2 separate regions of the Homo sapiens genome follow, and region 1 is linked to region 2. The links come from fine-mapping of genetic effects on gene expression. A gene starts in region 2. The other region holds a variant in brackets. All regions are shown on one strand. Distances are between the middles of the regions.

Region 1 (4,385 bases), 51 kb before region 2:
TTTCTTATGTCTACTTCTTTTTACATAGACACAGTAACAGTCTGATCTCTCTTTTCCCCACACATGTGTTGCGGTTTTGGCTGGCTGTAATGTATGAATTTACTCCAAACCATCCCTGGGGCCAAGATATCTCATATTTATTTAGTAAGATAAAAAATATATCTGGTTCCAGCCTCCACTCACCAAGCTGGCTGAAAAGTCCACCATCAGTCAGTTTTTAGGGTTTCTTCCTTCCAGAGTGAGAGGGCCCTGGTGGTCAACCCAAATTGGCCATCTCCCCTACACAAGCACAGGTTCTTCACTGTCTAGTTGCCCTCTCTGGCTGGGCGCTGGAGGTCCTCCTTAGAGATCCTCCTGTTTATCCCTGGCTCTGTGCAGCCAGCTGAGTTCTGCCAGCTCCAAGAGCAGCGTGGGCAGCACTAGCAGGGATCTGCTCACAGCTCTTGCCTGCAGAACTCCCCTCCTGGTTGCAAGGAATCCACCTGGCTGGCAGGGGTGTGGGATGGTAGCAGGATGGGTCTTCCTGCACTTCGGCTCCAAACAGCAGCATCTATATGGTTTTCCTCTGGAGCAACTGCTCTTCATTATTTTTACGAACAGATTATTCCAGGACAGAAGTTTTGGCTCTGAAAGCTTGGCTCTTTCAGGAGGAGAAGCGGGAAATTACCTTTCAGGTTTCCAGTGATTGTGGTTTTGAGTAATCAGCAAAGGGGTGGGGTCCTGATTGACAATAGCTTTGTAGGCTTTGCGGGGGAGTAGGATTTTTTTTTGGTTTTTGTTATTTTTGTTTTTTGTTTTTGAGACGGAGTCTTGCTCTGTCGCCCAGGCTGGAGTGCAATGGTGCGATCTCGGCTTACTGCAACCTCTGCCTCCCAGGTTCAAGCGATTCTCCTGCCTCAGCCTCCCGAGTAGCTGGGATTACAGGCGCCTGCCACCATGCCTGGCTAATTTTTGCATTTTTAGTAGAGACGGGGCTTCACCATGTTGGCCATGGCTGGCCTCGACCTCCCGACCTCAGGTGATCCGCCCGCCTCGGCCTCCCAAAGTGCTGGGATTATAGGCATGAGCCACCGCGCCTGGCCAATGCCTGGCTAATTTCTGTAGTTTTAGTATAAACGGTTTCGTCATGTTGGCCAGGCTAGTCTTGAACTCTTTTTTTTTTTTTTTTTTTGAGATGAAGTCTCACTTTGTTGCCCCAGCTGGAGTGCACTGGTGCAATCTCGGCTCACTGCAACCTCCACCTCCCGGGTTCAAGCAATTCTCCTGCCTCAGCCTCCCTAGTAGCTGGGGTTACAGGTGCCTGCCACCATGCCCGGCTAATTTTTGTATTTTTTAGTAGAGATGGGATTTCACCATCTTGGCCAGGCTGGTCTTGAACTCCTGACCTCAGGTGATCCCCCTGCCTTGGCTTCCCAAAGTGTTGGGATAACAGGTGTGAGCCACCTCACCCGGCCAGGACGTGGGAGTTTTAGCTGAACCCAGCCCAGGCTTGGGAACAGCTCTTTCCCCCGCCTCTCCTCCCTTCTGCCTACAACTCCTAAGGCACCCTTCTGTTTGGCTCTGGAGTCCTTGAATGATGGGCAGGTAGGATCTGTGACTGTCTGGGCAACCTTTCTTCTGGGGCTCTTAGCCCAGCCCTGAATCACAAGGGGGCACCTGAGATAAGCAGGGCTCCAGCAGGCCCTGGGAGAACACAGCGATTTGTAGTAAAGCTCCTGTCTGATAGATTCTGGACAAAGCGATTTGGCAACCAAGATTCTTTTTTTTTTTTGAGTCAGAGTCTTGCTCTGTTGCCCAGGCTGGAGTGTAGTGGCTCAATCTTGGCTCACTGCAACCTCCGCCTCCCGGGTTCAAGTGATTCTCCTGCCTCAGCCTCCTGGAGTAGCTAGGACTACAGGTGCCTGCCACCACATCCAGCTAATTTTTGCATTTTTGGTAGAGACAGGGTTTCGCCATGTTGGCCAGGCTGGTCTCGAACTCCTGACCTCAGGTGATCCGCCTGCCTCGGCCTCCCAAAGTGCTGGGATTACAGGTGTGAGCCACCACTCCCGGATTCTT[G/A]GCTGTGTCCAAGGAGGACACAGCTGGATGAAGGGGTACCTAAACACCTTCTGAATTTTCACAAAATAGTTCACCTCTCTCTAAACTCTTGAGCAAATCTAGAGAAAAATGTGTTTCTGGTAATTCTGTTGACGCTTCACCCATTTTTTCCCACCCTGCCCCCTGAATAAGTTTTGATATCTTTTCTAGACCGAAGAGAAGGACCACCATCAATAGAATAGTATAGCTGGGAGAGACATCACAGAACACCTATTTATGCCCTTATGCCTTTGTACATGCAGTTTTGTTTTACCCTGAATGGTTTTTCCTACATCTCTTACAACCCGCTTATCAATCCCACTGGCATTGTGGTTCAGAAGGAGAAAACAAAACAGATGGAGGAGGGGCAATGCCTCCTAAGTGATTGGTAGAGTATCCCTCTCTTGAAAAATTGTGCATGCAGGTGGCCACAGGTTTAGATGTTACCTGTATACTATACTTCCCTGCATTCTCCGCAAAATCAGGTTTCCGCATGTTCACTGATTGGTCTTCTGGAGGTGCAGACTTACTTTGGTGTCTAGGAGAAAATGTCTCAGCTGCCTGACACTAGTTGAAGATTTAAAAATAGCTGTTAGCAGCTGTGTCATTAACTGTCAACAGGCAAGAACATAGGAAAGAATGAAAATGTGTGCTGAGCGTGGAGGGGAGCACATTGCTAGCTGCTAGCTGCCGTGCACAGGCACTCTGTGGGCGCCTTGTAGCGAGGTCGGGGGAGTTGGTGACCGGACTGTCAGGTGGCAGTTATTCCAGGGTGGTGAATGCTCTGCTGATTTCGATGTCCTTCTCCATACTCTTAGGCATTTTTTAAAATACAATGAACCTGTATTTATATAATGAAAACAAAAATAAAGCAAAATTTGATTTTCATTGTGAGATGGGAAAGGCAAGATGCAGTACTGTGTGTATAGTATGATTCCTTTGTGCAAAAAAGAATATATATAGACAACTGTTGACATGGTGGGTTTTTCATAAATATTTTCTTTTCCTGTAAGAGTACACCAGAAACTGTTAATTATAGTTTTCCTTTATAGAGGAGGGACTGTGCAAGGAGAACCAGGGGTGGAGGGAATGCTCACTTTTCATTTTGTATACCTTTAAAGAATATATCAAGAGGATTATCTAGTGTGTTTGGGGAGAAGTCTTGAACCCATTTTTTCTTCTTTGTAGCTCCTTGTGTTAGAAAAAAAATCCAAAGTAAGTACTCTATCAGTTCAATGAATTCAGGGAAGTGCTCCTGACACTGAGGACATCAGGGGGCAGAGGCTGTGGCATGTGCTCGGAGAGGGCAGGCGCCAGGCTCTGGGGTGTGGGGGGTGGGAGGGGGCAGTGGTGCCTGGGTGGGGAGAGGTGCACATGAGTCTGAGAGGACCACAGCTTGGAAGCACCTCCTGGAATATGCTCTGGAGCCTGTGGTGTGATGAGATGGGGATTTTAAGGGGAGAGGCAAGGCCAGGTTGGGTTTTGCACTGTCTGGCCCTAGTGGAAAGTGTGGGTTGGAGGTGCAGGACCTGGGCAGGGCAGCAGTTGGGTGGCCGCGTGTGACCTAGGAGACAAGGATGAGTCTGAGGCCCGGTGAGGGCCTTGGTAGAGGGGATGGAGAGGTGACCATTTTTCAGAGCTACTTAGCTTGGTGACTGGATGCAGGTGGTGGTGGGAAGGAGGAGCCAGAAAGACACCTGTTTCATTTCCTGAACACCTGGATGGATGGCGGGGCCTCCCCTGAGTACAGGGTACAGGATACATAAGGAGGAGCTGGTCAAAAGTCGGGCAGGTGATGAGCTTAGAGGAAGGACAGGGAAGGTGGACAGGTGACAGGAATAGCCCAGTGAGCTGGTTTGGGCTCCATTGCCTCGGGCTGGGTAGGGGATCTGGGGGATGTGGGATGAGTGGAGAGCCTGGAGTCAGAGGTGCTTAGGGGAGGAGTGGAAGCCAGGGTAGGGGAGGAGGGTAAGAGGGGAGGGGAGGAGGGGAAGGGTAGAGGGGAGAAGGGGAAGCAAGGGGAGGTGAGGAAGGGAAGGGGAGAAGGGAAAGGAAGGGGAGGGGAGGAAGGGAAGGGAAGGGTAGAGGGGGAGGAGGGGAAGCAAGGGGAGGGGAGGAAGGGAAGGGTAGAGGGGGAGGAGGGGAAGCCAGGGGAGGGGAGGAGGGAAAGGGTAGAGGGGAGGAGGGAAACCAGGGGAGGGGAGGAGGGGAAATTGGGGAGGGAAGAGGGGGAAGTGGGGAGGGGAGGAGGGGGAAGCAGGCCAGGGGAGGAGGGGGAGTAGGGGGAGGGGAGTAGGGGGATTAGGGGG
Region 2 (4,385 bases):
CCGCCCGCATTCAGTTCGAAGGACCAGCCAGTAGGCCCTGCGCCGCCCAGGGACCGCCCGGCCTTTGCGTCCGGCCCAGCTCAAGCCCCTTCCGCCGCGCGCGGCCTCGGGAGCGCTGGGCAGGCAGCCCGGGTGGGAGCGCCCACGTCTCCCGCGGACACGGACGGACGGATGGACGGGCGGCCGCGCAGGCCCGCGCCCCGCTCCCGCCCCGCCTGCCGCGCCTCCCGGGGCGCCCGCATTAAAGCGCATATGCAAGCCATGAATTATCAACTGAAAGGAGTCAATTACCGGCTCTAAAAACGAGTGTCTGCGCTCGCAGCGCCCCGGGCCATCCGCCTATTTACGGAGCGATCTACCCCGCCCGGCTGGGGAGGGGGCCTCGGGAGGGAGAGAGACGGAGAAACGGAGCCCGAGACCGGGAGAGAGCCGGAGAGGCAGGGACTGGAGAGTCTGGGACACGAAGGAGAGGCGGGGAGAGACCGAGATTCAGCGAGACGCGCGGAGGGCCGGACGGGAGCCAAGGCGGCTCAGTTCCTCTTCTCCCCCGAGCAGGCGAGGAGAGGTGGGGTCTCAGGACCTCCAAGGCCCTGTTCCCCTTCCATTGGCATTTGTGTAAGGACGCAGGCCCTCCGCACTGCTGACTGTGGCACTGGGCAGGGAGTCCCCTAGACTAGGGGTTTGGGGTTAGATCTGGGGCTCAGGCAGCGCTGGGCTGGGCGTAGTTTGCAGAGGGACCGGCCGTCCTGGCAGGAAACTGGGGAGGAGGCCGCGGCTTTGTCCAGGGTGGAGGTAAGAACGATGGTTGGACAGCATGACCACGAGTAAAGGGAGGAGGGCTTGAGGATAGGGACAAAGTGATGTGGAGCTTATGTAGGAGATGATGCGCAGCCTTTCAGCATTGAGAGAGAAACCGGGAGACCAGCCAGCCTCAGTGGGCCCAGGAAGTCCTGCTTCCTCCCCACCCGCTCAAGCTGTTCCCTCCTCTGGAAATGCTTTTCCTGCCTTCCCTCTACTCATTCTGTGATTCCTGCCCTCCCCAGCCTCTGTGCTACCTTAGCCTCAACACAATACACTCATTATTATTATTATTATTAGTGACAGGGCCTCACTCTGTCACCCAGGCTGGAGTGCAGTAGTGCAATCATAGCTCACTGCTGCCCTAACCTCCTGGGCTAAAGTGATCCTCCCACCTCTGTCTCCCAAGTAGCTGGGACTGTAGGCACATGCCACCATGCCCTCCTAATTTTTTAAATTTTTTGTAGACATGGGTCTTGCTGTGTTGTCCAGCCTGGTCTGGAACTCCTGGCCTCAAGCAACCCTCCCACCTCAACCTCCCAGTGTTGGGATTACAGGCATGAGTCCCACGATACCTGGCAACACACCCCATTCAATTCCATGATCCAGACCTGACTTTACCATAGGGCCAGACCTTGTCCATGTTGCTCAGTATTGTGCCCTTGGAAGAAGGTCCTTGAATGTTTCCTGAAAAAATGAATGAAGGAGTAAGCTGAGCTGGAGGACACATTGGCCTGGACAGAGGCTGTGACAAAGATGGCAGGGCTGGTGAGCCCAGATATGGGCCTCCCATACAGATCAGATGGAAGGCTTTAGGCAACCACAGTACTGGGGTGAGGTCACAGAAGCTGAGTCCAGCCCTTGCTTGGGGAGACGGGTACAGGAAGTAGCAGGGGCAGGGAGGGAAGGGGTAGATGGAGAGTTGTCATCAGCACCAGCAAGTCACCGCAAGAGCCCCGGGGCTTTGATTTGAATGCTTCACGGCCCCTGAAATCCTAGGTCTCTTCTGGGGGAAGAGGTTCAGGGAACCCCCAGTGACTTTGAGGAAGGAATGGGGCCTACACTGGGGCAGTGAGAAGATTCTCATCTTGGGAATCAAACAGAGCCTTTCTCTTCTAGCTGTGGGATCCCAGGCAAGCCTCAACTTCTGAGCCTCAGGTTCCTCATCTATGAAATGTTGCTGGCCAGGGGAGGTGCCTCACGCCTGTAATCCTGGCACTTTTGAGCTCAGGAGCAACAGACTTTGTCTCTATAAAAAAAACTAGCTGGGCGTGGTGGTTCATGCCTGTGGTCCCAGCTACTCAGGAGGCTGAGGTGCCATTTTTGAGGCTACAAAATACCAAGCACTATGATAATGGATTATCTCTCTACTCTTCACAACAGCTTCTTTCTAAGATTGCTAAGTCATTTTGCAAACAAGGAAATTCTAAGACAGGCAGGGATTGGGAAATGGCAGATAAAGTTTTGAAGCCAGTTCTTACTCCAGAGTCTCTTTAACCTGTGCACCATGAAGCCTCCTAGACCTGGTCCATATACCCCCTGCCCTGTTCCCTCAGCCCTTCCAGCCTGGCTGAGTCCAGACTGGGGGAAGTGGGGGCTGCACAGCAGGCAGGGCAGCTCAGGTCCAGCAGAGGTGGCCCCTGGGGTCTTGTTCCTGCCATGGCGTGGGGTGGGCGTCTGTCCAGCTTGATGAGTCTCCAGCCCCGCCATGCCATTAGCGGGCAGCCAGAGGGGGTGTCTGCAATCGCCAACACTGGGGTTCCCACTGCTGCTTGCCTATTAGTGGCTGGTGGCTTCATGGTGATTTATTGGGGCTTCTTCATTTCCCCTTGGTCCGCTATAAACATATTTATACCACCAGAGTGACCGATAAATTTCCCTTATGAATCCTGTTATCTCCCCTATTAACCATCCGTCACCTTTTATGTGGCCACAGTGGGCCAGGCCAGGGCACCAGGGCTGGGTGGGAGGCCTGCAGCCCACAGCCCCGGAGCCCAGTGAACTCTTCACCTCCCCCACTGCTCCCCAGACAGGGCAGCTGCTGCCTCCTCGGAGCTGCCTCTAGGATAAGGATATGGTCCTGGGAACAGACTGAACTTACGCGGGGCCTTTGAAATGTGGCTTCCTCCAGGGTCTCAGTATGGGAAGTCCCTCTCAGGGTTAACCTGAGTCTCTCCTACTGTAGCTCAGCCTTCATCTCTTCTAAGTGATCAGGAGCCTCCTGAAGCTGCTACTGCTGCTGCTCTTCCTTCTCTCCCCACCCTCAGCTCTCATCCTTATCCTCTAAGTGCAGCAGAAAACTGAGACACAGTTAGATGTAGCATGGGGTTGGGGGGAGATGGCAGCTGGCATTTGCTGAGCATCTCCTCTATGCCAGTCACTTTGCATTCATGACTTCATGTGATCGTCACACAATCCTAGACCCAGGCATTTATGGCTTCATTTGCCAGATGAGGATGAGGAAATAAGGCTCAGAGACATTAAATGAAGAGCCCAAGATCACCCAGCCAAAGGGCAGAGCTGTGATTTGGGGCTTTTCTGGCCCCAAAGCTGGTGCTTTCAACCACTGCACTATACAGCCTCTTTGAATGCTCTTGGCTGGGAGAGGTTAATCAAAGAAAGTTTTCCAGAGTGCTATGGAGCAGGAGAGGGAAGTAAAGAGAGGGGAGGAGAGGGGGCCCCCTGTGGAAGGCTGATCGGGAGAAGTGGGCAGGGATGTGGAGTAGGGAGTAACCTCTTTTGCTTTCCAGTCAGGGAAACTTGGACAACTGTTCAGTCAGGCCCCATGTTGCTGGGAGTAGGGGGTAAGGTCTCTAAGAGCTGGAAGCCACCTGTATTGCCAGAGCCTGGGCTAGAGGACTAGGGCCTGGCTCAGACCTCCTCAGCTGTATGCTTGGGACAGAGCACCCCTCATATTTAGGACTCAACCTTCTCCTGCACCTGGGCTTGGAGGATTCTACCTCTTGACTACTTGATATACCAGCTTCCTTGGGAGATGGCTGGGTGTGTATATATATTGGGATGCCTGGGAGTCTTGTTTCCTTTAACATCACCCACAAAATCGGCCACAACTACTGACAACTCCTCTGGAGTTAAGATGACCCCCATGGTCCAATGAAGAATTCTGAGACTTGAGGAGACTGAGGTCTACCCTCTGAGTCCTGGCATTGCTTCTCCAGCTCCAGGATGATGGGCATAGAAAGGCATTGTTATTCCCATTTTACAGATGAGGCAACTGAGGCCCAGAAAGGGAGGAGATCTTAACAAAGAATGGAGTCCCAGGGCAAGGGATGGTGACTGGGGTGGGGTGGGGACTCAGCAGCATGAGAGACAAGAGGAAGCAGAGTGGGGCTGGGGGTGGAGTATCGTCTGTGGGCCTGGGTGGCCATGGGTGGAGGTGAGGGGCTCAGCATTCTGGAGGATGTCTAATTATTCATGTCCTCAGCAACAGAGTCCCAGGTGGTCTGATGGTGGCTATGGAAGAGAGGATTATGGGCTTAGCACCCCAAGGAAACAGATTCTCTTCTGACTACCAGAGGATATGGAGAGGTCATTCTGGCCATTCCCCTGCCTCCCATGGTCCAGAG

Alleles and levels. Alleles are on the strand shown, and positions count from the first base shown. SD is a standard deviation of normalised expression in the study named.
For the expression in thyroid of the gene that starts at base 1,591 in region 2, allele A in region 1 goes with a lower level than allele G (small effect, 0.28 SD a copy in GTEx).

The links. PIP is the estimated chance that this variant, and not a neighbour inherited with it, causes the effect.
Region 1: its variant is the best candidate, but not a certain one, in a credible set for the expression of LINC01398 in thyroid (GTEx, PIP 0.68).

The regions. Positions count from the first base shown.
Region 1 is chr1:46,396,781-46,401,165 of GRCh38, forward strand. The region is part of intron 1 of FAAH (fatty acid amide hydrolase); the gene reads left to right. Among named protein-coding and RNA genes, the nearest start is that of FAAH, 4.7 kb to the left of the region's middle. The variant G/A (reference allele first, on the strand shown) is at 2,059.
Region 2 is chr1:46,448,114-46,452,498 of GRCh38, forward strand. LINC01398 (long intergenic non-protein coding RNA 1398) reads right to left here and starts at 1,591. Exons shown (of 3, transcript NR_121680.1): 1 at 1,374-1,591. RefSeq lists enhancers at 1-217, 218-731.